Homo sapiens: one gene and its partners. The protein of the gene in region 1 interacts with the protein of each later gene in a pairwise test. Each region holds a gene or a part of one and is shown in the gene's direction. Other genes may lie near its edges.

What was found.
Region 2: the proteins of CDCA7L (region 1) and UTP3 interact in binary tests that used the Homo sapiens proteins (3 or more experiments, as listed by UniProt).
Region 3: the proteins of CDCA7L (region 1) and PBX1 interact in binary tests that used the Homo sapiens proteins (3 or more experiments, as listed by UniProt).

What each region holds. Positions count from the first base shown.
Region 1 is NC_000007.14:21,939,174-21,942,923, reverse strand, and holds part of CDCA7L (cell division cycle-associated 7-like protein), read left to right. Parts: intron 1-2,608; exon of another isoform or gene 2,609-2,662; intron 2,663-3,750. UniProt on the Homo sapiens protein: Plays a role in transcriptional regulation as a repressor that inhibits monoamine oxidase A (MAOA) activity and gene expression by binding to the promoter.
Region 2 is NC_000004.12:70,686,885-70,690,634, forward strand, and holds UTP3 (something about silencing protein 10), read left to right. Parts: upstream 1-1,647; 5' UTR 1,648-1,793; coding exon 1,794-3,233; 3' UTR 3,234-3,667; downstream 3,668-3,750. UniProt on the Homo sapiens protein: Essential for gene silencing: has a role in the structure of silenced chromatin. Plays a role in the developing brain. Part of the small subunit (SSU) processome, first precursor of the small eukaryotic ribosomal subunit.
Region 3 is NC_000001.11:164,786,146-164,789,895, forward strand, and holds part of PBX1 (pre-B-cell leukemia transcription factor 1), read left to right. Parts: intron 1-3,750. UniProt on the Homo sapiens protein: Transcription factor which binds the DNA sequence 5'-TGATTGAT-3' as part of a heterodimer with HOX proteins such as HOXA1, HOXA5, HOXB7 and HOXB8. Binds to the DNA sequence 5'-TGATTGAC-3' in complex with a nuclear factor which is not a class I HOX protein.

The sequences.
Region 1 (3,750 bases):
ATTTTTCTGGTATTGGTCTCTTAGCTGCAAAGTGCTCCCATCTGATCCTGTTGTTTAACATGTAATTCCAGAGCCCCAGAAGCTGGTCACAGAAAGGACAATGATTTGCCACTCTAATAGTCTTGTATTTAAAACGCTCCTTGGTTGTTCTGTGTTCTGCTGGCTACCCCATCCATAGCAGAGCAGGATTCTCAAAAATCAGGCGAAAACCTCAGAGATCATAATGATTCTGATCAGGTACACAGGCCAGGAAACAATGAGATAATTGTGGCCTAAAACAATTACAAACATTAGAGTAAATTAATGAAAAAGATTAGAACATCATTGGAATAGAATAAGCCAGGCATTACATTTAAACTGCTCTTGAGAGTTTTCCTTTACTCAAAGTTATGTTTTAGAATATTTACCTCCAGTATACAGTTTTGTTTTAGAAAAGACTCGGCTTTATTCACCAAAATGGAATAGATTACAGGCTACTTAAAGTAGGTAGGGATAGAGATAAGAAAATACTACTGGGGCCATTTTGTTCTTTTTGTTTATGAAAAGCAGTGCTTTCTGTAGTTTTTTTGAAATAGGACCATTCAGAGGCATATTTGGTAAATACCACTGAAGTTAACACTCAGAAAAATGTATCTTCCATAGTAGTAAATGCTAGCACCCTGCATGCAGCACAGAAATAAAGTGTGGAGTCTCACAGTGCAAGGGGCCTGAGCTTTAGTTCAAATAAATCGTTGATGTTTCCTGCCTGTTTTCCTTCATGATCATCAGCTGAGGATAGAGGGCTTGCTGACTGGGTTAGTACACTGATCAGATAGTCAGTTGAGCACCGGTTATGTGCTAGGCATTGGTAGGGTGGAAGAACAAAGACACAGAAAACACGCCTCTTTCCCCACACTCTCTACCAGAAGGCCATGCTTGAACTCCCTTCCTCTTCTGCTTTTGCCAGAGCTCAGCTGGCTCCTGCTCTGTGCTATGGGGACCTGGGGGACCTTGGGTTTGGAGAGTAGAGGGAGACCTTAAGAGCCATCCTTTTTTGCCCCCAAGGAATGGAAACTATCACTTCCTTTTAAAAGTCATGCTGTGCTAAGTACTTAAAAGTTATCAGATTTAATCCCCACTGTAGTTCTGTGAAGTAGGTTGTGTTATCTGCCTTTTAAAGATAAGGCTAAATTGACTAATTTGCTCAGGGCAATTTGTAAGGAATTGGCCCTTGCTGCTGGAATCACCGGGCCTTGGTGAGTCAGGAAACTTGCCCTGTTCCCTCCTCCCTTTAACTAGAAGGGCTGGAGTGTTAACAGCAGCTAGTCTGGTTCTTTTTTAGGAACTCACCAGATTATGCTTTATACTGCCTGTAAAAGTCAGTTTGGGAATGTGAATAAGATCCACCAAGCTTTTACATAGGAATGACTTTTATGTGAAATTTGCATTGTACAAACAATAACATGTTACCGTAAGCTGCACTGAACCACTTCTCTGCTTCCCCTACTCTCCGTGCCCCATTTTCTGCAGTTTCCATGAAGTGTTTGCCTGTAGCACAGTCGTCATCTTTGTCTAACCTTTACAGTATGATTGCTGTTGGAATCTGCTTTCCTTAGCACTATCAGCATTACTTTTCCTAGTAGCGTAGAGATCTTTACAGTTTTCATTTTTAGTGACTGTCTAGTGTTTCTAGATGTGTATTTTATGTATTTTCTGTTGAAAAAATATTTTTTTCTTTATTAGAGGAAATAAATATCTCAGGGTGGTATACTGTATATCTTACGGCTTGTGTTGGAGTCTGCACTATTTTTAATAACTCTTTATAATGTATTTAATATCTCATAAAGGGAATGTGCCTGATTTTCAATGGTTAGGAGCCTCTGACACATTGTTTTCCTAGGGCATTTCCCCTTTTGTTGCGCTATATTAGCTGAAAGAAAGCAGTTTTTGCTGAGGTTAGAACCAAGCTTATGATAACTGGACTGAAAGAATGTTGTCTCCTTGAACTTAGAGCATCTCATAGAATGTTCTAGTTGGGGGGAAAGTGGAGAGTAGTCCCAGAAATCTGTTCTTTACATCCGGTCTGCCTAGAAAACCAAGAAAACCTATAAATGTGTCAGTGGACATTTAGTGGAAGTGACTGCAGATTAGGGCTATGGGGAATTTGTGGCAAGTTGGTCTCATTGACTTGGCGGAAGGCAGGGACACCCCATCCACAGCGCCCACATTCATGCTTCCACCTGTGCATCTACAGCAGGTTCTCCAGGGTGACTGCATCCTGCAGCTATGTAGGTTACTGCTCCTGGAAGTCTTCCCATCCATTGCCCCCACCGCTGGCTCAGGTGCTCGCCCTGGGAACTTCTGGAGTACCTGGGCTGACTTCCCTGATCACATTTATCATACCACACTGGAATTGTTTAAAGATTGTTTCTCTTACCCTACCACTTACGACTCAGTTTTCATCAGCTCTCTTAGCATGGTGTCTGGCATATATTTGATGCTTAGGAGACGATGTCCAGCATGTATTAGATGCCTAATAAATATCCATTGAATGGATGGAAGGGCAAAGTAGTATTGTTAGTAATATACTCTTTTAATTAACATTTATATAGCGTTTTCTACTTTTCAGAGCACTTCGCAGGCATAGTTTGGAAGTCATCAGGGCTGGTTCTTTTCCTTCCAGGTAAGTGGTGTAGGGTTGCACTTTCCTGGCCCTGAAACAGTCAAGGCTATTTGACTTGCTTTGGCCAGTGGAATATGAGAAGTACTATATGTCACTTCTAAGTGAATTATTTAAATGCCAGCATACCACTTACTGTATCTCATTCCCTCTGCCACTGCATCTGTCAGCATTCTGCAGAGTGGTAGCTCTATCAGCCCAGGTTCTGGTGTGAGGACAGTGTGGAATAGAGCCTTGGGCTGGCCTGTGATGGACATGTAATGTGAACAAGACGGAAGCCTTTTTTTTTTTTTTTTTTTTTGGTTTGAAGCTATTGATTGAGATTTAGGGTTGTTTGCTACTGCTTTATAGCTTGTCATATCCTAACAGACCAGGGTGCTCCTATTTCAGTTTTGGATTCAATCACTCTGTGGTTGTCATCTGAGTGATCTGGGGTCATGGTAGTCGTGGTAACAAACGTGGGTGGGTTTCTTTTTGATTGTTAGAGTGATGAGGGTGAGGGGAATGCCCCTGGTAAGTGGTTTGGAGTTCAGGGGTATTAAGTACCATGTGGCAGGCAGGAGAGTCCTACAGGATGAAGCAGTTGTTCTGTCCAAAACGTCAGTTGCACCTTGTTGGAAAACACTGAGAACAGACTTGTCCAATTTGATAATCTTTTAGACTCCAGAGAAATCTTAACATTGGCTTCACATGTTCTATCTGCTGACCTCCCTGGAGGAGGAAATTACTTCACACTTCCCAAGTGATTTGGTTCACTTCACTCCCAGGATCTCTGCCAAAATTCCAGTTCATTAGGTACTCATCTGCTGAATAGCTCTTCTAAGACCTGTGTAAATACATATCTAAAATGACTTCCCATTTATTTCTTCTCTTTTAAACATAACATTGACTACCCTGTGGGGCTTTTTATTGTGGTAAGATATACATAATAAAAGGTACTATTTTTAACCTTTCAGTGTTACTAAGTATAGTCACAATGTTGTGCCGCCATCACTGATCTCTCATGAGCTTTTTCATCATTTTAAACTGAAACTCTCTACCTACTAAACAATTACCCCTATGACCTCTTCCTCCAGCCCCTGGTTACTTCT
Region 2 (3,750 bases), on another chromosome or scaffold:
ACACCTTTAGGCACTTGGAAAATGTTTATTTCAAAGTATCACTTTTCTAACATTTTGCATTATTTTTATTAACCTAATGACACTATACTTTCTGAAAAGAAATTGTCACCATTGGCTGGGCGCGGTGACTCACGCCTGTAATCAATCCCAGCACTTTGGGAGGCCGAGGCGGGCGTATCACGAGGTCAGGAGATGGAGACCATCCTGGCCAACATGATGAAACCCCGTCTCTACTAAAAATACAAAAATTAGCTGGGAGTGGTGGCGCGTGCCTGTAATGCCAGCTACTCGGGAGGCTGAGGGAGGAGAATCACTTGAACCAGGGGGTCGGAGGTTGCAGTGGGCCGAGATTGCCACTGCACTCCAGCCTGGCAACAGAGCGAGCCTCCGTCTCAAAAAAAAAAAAAGAAAAAAAGAAAAAGAAAAAAGAAACAAAAAACAAAAGAAAAAGAAATTGTCACCATTAATTTTATTTTATTTATTTATTTATTTATTTTGAGACAGAGTCTCTGTCTGTCGCCCAGGCTAGAGTGCAGTGGTGCGATATCGGCTTACTGCCACCTCCGCCTCCCGGGTTCAAGTGATTCTCCTGCCTCAACCTCCCGAGTAGCTGGGATTACAGGTACCCGCCACCACGCCCCGCTAATTTTTTGTATTTGTAGTAGAGACTGGGTTTCCCCATGTTGGCCAGGCTGGTTTTGCACTCCTGACCTCAAGTGATCCACCCACTTCGGCCTCCCAAAGTGCTTAGGATTATGGGCATGAGCCACCGCGCCCAGCCATGTCACCATTAATTTTAGCAACGTATCAAAAGTTCAGCTTCCAACTACCTACATTAAAAGGTATAATAATACTAACCCTGAACCTTACATATGTAATGCCTAAAAACTTACACCCTGAATTACTCTAACATTACAGGGCAGACTTCCTTGAGAAGAGTCAGACCCTGCAGCGGGGCTCTGCCTTCCCACTGTCAGCCTCGGGGTCATCTAGCTTTATCGATCCCCATGGAGCGGGTCACCGAGCCCTGTGAGCAGGGAGAGGGCGATGGGGATGAGTAAACCCGAGCCGGAGGCCCGGCCTGCGCTCTCGCCCGGAAACCTCCCGTGGGATTCTGGAGTCCAGCGGCGCTGCCTGAGGCTGTGGTACCCAGAAATATGGTATTGGGGGTGGGGGTGAAATGAGAGGAAAGCAATCTGATTAACTTCCAGCCTGATAAGCAGAAAAGAGAAAACAAGGGAGCAGGAAAACTACGCTAGCACTAGACTGCCGGTCGCAAGCGCCGGGTACACACGCAGTTAAACCTCAATGGAACGCCCCCGGGACTTCTCCGGGGCGTAAAGCGCAGCGCCCTCTATTGGCCATCGGGACCTCGCCTGGAGGTGCCGTCAGGATTCCGTCCCCCAGCCACTCCCAGGCACTCGAGAGTAAGCGCATTAGCCCGAGAAAGCGTTCTGTGGAACGGAACTTCCTTATCCTATCGTTTCCACACGGAAAGATTTTAATTCACCGGAATCGACTGGCGTTAAAGGGCACAGTGAAAAGGAAGTTGGTATCAACGTGATCTCGACTAAGGGACCGAGCGGAAGTCCTCAATCGTACGCCACGCGGAGAGCATGCTGGGGGCCGGAAGGAAGAGGAAATTCCAGTAGCCGATCAGGAGTCTGCAAACTCCGGTGGTAGGGGAGCGCGCTGCTGTTTAGAGCCACGAGTTACCGGAGCGCCTGATTCCTGCGCCGAAGTCAGTGGTGGCCGAAAGTCCGGAGTCGCTGTAAAACCTGAGATTGTGAGCCATGGTGGGGAGATCCCGGCGGCGCGGAGCAGCTAAGTGGGCAGCTGTGCGAGCCAAGGCAGGTCCCACGCTCACCGACGAAAATGGAGATGATTTAGGATTGCCACCCTCACCAGGGGACACCAGCTACTACCAAGATCAGGTAGATGACTTTCATGAGGCACGATCCCGGGCCGCCTTAGCTAAGGGCTGGAATGAAGTACAGAGTGGAGACGAGGAGGATGGCGAGGAGGAGGAGGAGGAGGTGCTAGCCCTAGATATGGACGATGAGGACGACGAAGATGGAGGGAATGCGGGGGAGGAGGAGGAGGAGGAGAATGCCGATGATGATGGTGGGAGCTCCGTGCAAAGTGAAGCTGAGGCCTCTGTGGATCCCAGTTTGTCGTGGGGTCAGAGGAAAAAACTTTACTATGACACGGACTATGGTTCCAAGTCCCGAGGCCGGCAGAGTCAACAGGAGGCAGAGGAGGAGGAAAGAGAGGAGGAGGAGGAGGCACAGATCATTCAGCGGCGCCTAGCCCAAGCGCTGCAAGAGGATGATTTTGGTGTCGCCTGGGTTGAGGCCTTTGCAAAACCAGTGCCTCAGGTAGATGAGGCTGAGACACGGGTCGTGAAGGATTTGGCTAAAGTTTCAGTGAAAGAGAAGCTGAAAATGTTGCGAAAGGAATCACCAGAACTCTTGGAGCTGATAGAAGACCTGAAAGTCAAGTTGACAGAGGTTAAGGATGAGCTGGAGCCATTGTTAGAGTTGGTGGAACAAGGGATCATTCCACCCGGAAAAGGAAGCCAATACTTGAGGACCAAGTACAACCTCTACTTGAATTATTGCTCGAACATCAGTTTTTATTTGATCCTGAAAGCTAGGAGAGTCCCAGCACATGGACATCCTGTCATAGAAAGGCTTGTTACCTACCGAAATTTGATCAACAAGCTGTCCGTTGTGGATCAGAAGCTGTCCTCAGAAATTCGTCATCTGTTGACACTTAAGGATGATGCTGTAAAGAAAGAACTGATTCCAAAAGCAAAATCCACCAAGCCCAAACCAAAGTCTGTTTCAAAGACTTCTGCTGCTGCCTGTGCTGTTACAGATCTTTCTGATGATTCTGATTTTGATGAAAAAGCAAAACTGAAGTACTATAAAGAAATAGAAGACAGGCAAAAGCTAAAGAGAAAGAAAGAAGAAAATAGCACTGAAGAACAGGCTCTTGAAGATCAAAATGCAAAGAGAGCTATTACCTATCAAATTGCTAAAAATAGGGGACTTACTCCTAGGAGAAAGAAGATTGATCGCAATCCCAGAGTGAAACACAGAGAGAAGTTCAGAAGAGCCAAAATTAGAAGAAGAGGCCAGGTTCGTGAAGTTCGTAAAGAAGAGCAACGTTATAGTGGTGAATTATCTGGCATTCGTGCAGGAGTTAAAAAGAGCATTAAGCTTAAATGAAGTTTTTGCTTAGCATAAGGTTTTTGGCAGTTTTGGATCAATAAATTTTTACTTTTAACTAAAGTCATTGTATTAATATATAATACTTTAAATTTTAAAAATTCTTGTCCACAAGGAAATTTGTCTGGGTTATTGGACAATTTATAAGAACTATGGGAGCAATATGAAGGTGCTTGAGAAAAGAGATGATGTTGAAGTTTTCCAATATTCTGTTGAAGTTTTCCAATATTAAGTATTAGCTTAGGGAAATTTCACAGTTCATTGTGGAGTGTTAAACTTAGAACATGTGTAACTTTTCACATAAAGAGAATGCATCTTTGACAGTTATCTTATTTGTAAGGCAGCCTATAAAATAGTTCTGAAGTATTTTATTTACCTAACTATAATTATTGGGCCAGATACTTGTTAATAAATGGGCTTAATGTTAACATGGATTTCATATGTTCTGTGTGGTTTAAAAGCATAGGAATGAAACTTTGGTTAAAAGCAGAAAAAGGAAAAGATATGCCTTAATTAC
Region 3 (3,750 bases), on another chromosome or scaffold:
GAGGCACAGATCCTTGGATCTCACCAGCCCGTATCTTCCCTCCTTGATTCTTTATTATATTGCTCTTAAGAAATATTGGAACAGACATTTAGTGTCAGGGGCCCTGTGAGGTTGTGTGGGGAACCGCCTTTCAGGAGTTCACAGTCTTGCTGGCAAGATGGTAGGTGTGCCCTGGCATGTCCTGAGATGCCCCATGGCTGTGGTCTAGGCAGTACGTGCCCTGGTGCCTCAGAGGCTTAGAGATCATTTTCGGCTCTTCTCGTCAGGGCAGATTTCATGAAGGATTTTGAGCTGAGATTTAAAATGAAATAGGACTGTAGTAAGTGGATTTCTGTGGCTGAGAAAGAAGAGGGCATTCTATCACCCAATACAGTGGCTCTAACCATGATGGTGGAAAGAGGTAATGGGAAAGGACCAGATTTAGAGAAATTAAAAGAAATTAGGAAATCAATAGAAAAAACTTCCTTCTTTCCATTACTATCTGATTGTTTTCTTCTTGGCCAGAGTATCGGTGTGCCTTGGGCATCAGAAGAGACTGTGTGTGTGTGTGTGTGTGTGTGTGTGTGTGTGTGTGTGCGCGCGCACACACACACACGCACAGAATAGATATCACATCCATGTAGCTGCCTGTTGTGAAAAGGATTCAGAACTCCAATATTGTAGAGGACTGAAGTGTCTGAGAGTTAAAGATCTAGAGTTCAGTGTCGGCTGTGTCTCATTTGCTTTGATTTTGGGGAAATGTGCTTTGCCTTTATAATCTTCGGTTATCTGCTATGTAAGTTTGGAACATTACTTCATGTTTTGTAAGGTGATGTAATTCAGTGCGTGCAAGTACTTTATGAACAAATAAAAGGTATAACTCTGATGCTCTCAGGAAGCAAGCATTTTGCTCTTTTCCTAAAACTGCATAGCTGACTTGGGAATGAGGCGGGGAGAGCTGGTCTCTCTTTTCTAACTCTTCTGGTAGGATGTGGTAAAGACTGAGCTCCTGGGCAATAGAACACTCTGCATGGAGGTTTGTGCCTACAAATCAAACAAAGAGATCAGCCAGAGAGAGCCTGCCTTTTTGCACACACCGTTGGGAGGCTACCTTGTGCCTTTCCCCAGACCACCTGCCTCTGCTTTCTGTCTTGTTCTTTATCTGTTTCTCTCTCTCAGCTCAGCTTTGGGCCCCTGGACTGTTGTCCAAATCTGAAGACCACCCTCCCTGTAGATCTGCCCTCCTCCCCTCCCAACCTGCCCCCACCTGTGGAAGTTTGAATCTGAGCAGAGGCATTCCCCCAGCATGAACCTGGACACTTGACTGTCCGCCCGCCTGGAGAACCAGTCCTTGGTGAAGAAAGAGTGCCCTCTAGTGGGCATTGGCTGGAGCTGCTCCGGACCCACGTCACTCAGCCAAGGACAAAACAACCCGCCACACGGCCCTCCCGCCAAGGATGATCTTGACTATGCCTTTGGGTTTGGTTTGTTTTTCTCCTTGTGTGAAGAAAAAGAAAGAAAGAACAGCAGGAGACAAGTGGTGAGAGCAGCTCCCACAATGCTGTGACAGTCCCTTTATCTTAGGACTTTTACCAAAGAATTAACCCCAGGGCAAGCGATGGCAGCAAGGTACATGTGACATCAGAAGCTTTTTAAAGGACTTGTGACAATTCCTGTATAAATCACCTACCTGTCTCAACTGGTCTCTTCCATAATTGGGTGGATTTGTGGGAAGGAAACTCTTTCTGTAAGAATGATTACCAAATGGGTTAAATATCTTCATGGGCGCAACCCCTCTGCAGATTGCATATCCACTGCAATCAATGACATTTTTCGGGTAGTGGACGCGTCCGGGCCTGCCTGGCCATTAAAACCCTATATGCATGAGGACAAACAAGGGATTTGGCCCTTTAAAACCTATTTCAGAAAAAAGCTGCTGGGGTGGGGAGGGAAGAGATGAGGGGGAGGGAGAGAGCGCAGGGCACCCATCAGGGAAGCAGGAACCTGATCATATGTGATGGTTGCTGGATTAGGTAACAGCTCCGCTGGTTGAAATTGGATCTTGGAGGATGAGTGTTAACATCTCTGGTGTCCTGGCGAAAGGTTCATTTGAGTCTTGCATGGTGCTGCAGAGATAAAAAGGAGCTTTTAAATAATCATTTTGTCTCCTACTCACCAGAGTACTGGCTTCCAGCAATAAATAGGTAGCATCAGTTCTGCTTAGACATATCACCCTTTTCATTTATTTATTTAATGTTGGTGTTTTTTTTTTTTTTTAACCGCCGAGCTGAACAGTTTGTGTATCAGTGAATCCCAACACCCATTCTTAATAGTGGTATATTTGGATTCTCCTTGCGCTGGCTACAAATATGAGCATGCAAGGTTGTTTATTGGTCCATCCCTGTCCCCTCCAAGCATTACAGACACAGCCCAAATCCACCAGAACTGAATTTTCTATGCAAAATAGTGCAAGATGGTTTTCTTTTAAGGTTTTCCCTTGTTCATATTGTTCCTTAAAAAAATTTTTTTTGGGTTTTTGCACAATCATTTTCTATTTTCATAATTTGAGTATAATTTAAAGGGTGTAATTTGGAAATGACTGTTGTTGGTTTTTCTACCCGCCGCCCTCCCCCCCCCGCCCTTTTCTTTTCATTCTTTTGTTTTCTTCAGAACTCTGATTGGGGACCTATTTATGTGTCTTGAACTCTAAGTGTAAATGCAAGCAATATTTATGCCGTGGTGCATTGTATCTATCTTATCAATTTCTAATTGGCCACATTTAGAAACTAAGTCTATTAACTCATAGTGAATTCAAATTTCTTTTTAGGGAGTATTTATTTGCAGGATTCACAAAATGATGTGAAAGCTAAGCGAAATACTAACACTTTCTTGCCCCAGCCAACCCACCACCACTGCGCCCAATTAAATGTATCCTTCATACCTGAAAGAAAAGAGGCAGTATGCTTTATGCTTTAAGCTTTGCAACCCTCCTGAAACTTCCATGGCGGGTAGGGGCTTGCAGTTTATCCTTTCAGTGTTCTTTGCCAGCCTTGACAATTTCCTTTCTTATTTTATTTAAAACCAGTTAGATTTGAAGGCCAAGAAATGTATTAATTAGGAGGTGTGTAGAGTTTGTGTGAAATTGTTTGTGCTTCCCATTGACTATTTTAAAAAGATGGTGTTTTAAAAAGATGGAGCAGAGGCATGAAACTGAGAGGGGTTGGAAAGAGGAAATATTCTCAGAGGTTAATATTAGGTATATGGGAAATATTCATAGTGATGTGTGCGTGATCACCTGTGTAGCTCCTGGAGGAGCGAGGATCAGAACTGTCTCTCTGCCTTGCCTCTCCCTTCTTTCATACCTCACTGAGTTTGGCTGGAGGAATAAGCTGATGGAATGAATGAGGCCGCTTGGGGTACCCATGTGATTGGAGGAGGTAGGATACTTGATGTCAGCTCAAGTAGGCAGTGCTTAACACTAGCCCTGGCAAGGCAAGTCCTGACCATTAATAGGACATCATTCTTTTTTGCTTTGCTGTTGTTGTTGAGACCAGAGGTTGTCCTAAAATCTCTCAGTGTTGGGCCGCATGCAGGACCAGTTGGGTGTGGAGTAGCCAGGTGGACCCACTTGAAGGCATTAACACCCAGCTGAAGGGTTACCAGCCTCAGCTTCGTGGGGAATGTTCCTGCCAGCCGTGGGGGCTTACGGCCTCTTCTGAAGGAAGTATATTGGACATGAGATTCAGTGAGCGAATGAGAGAGTAGAATTTT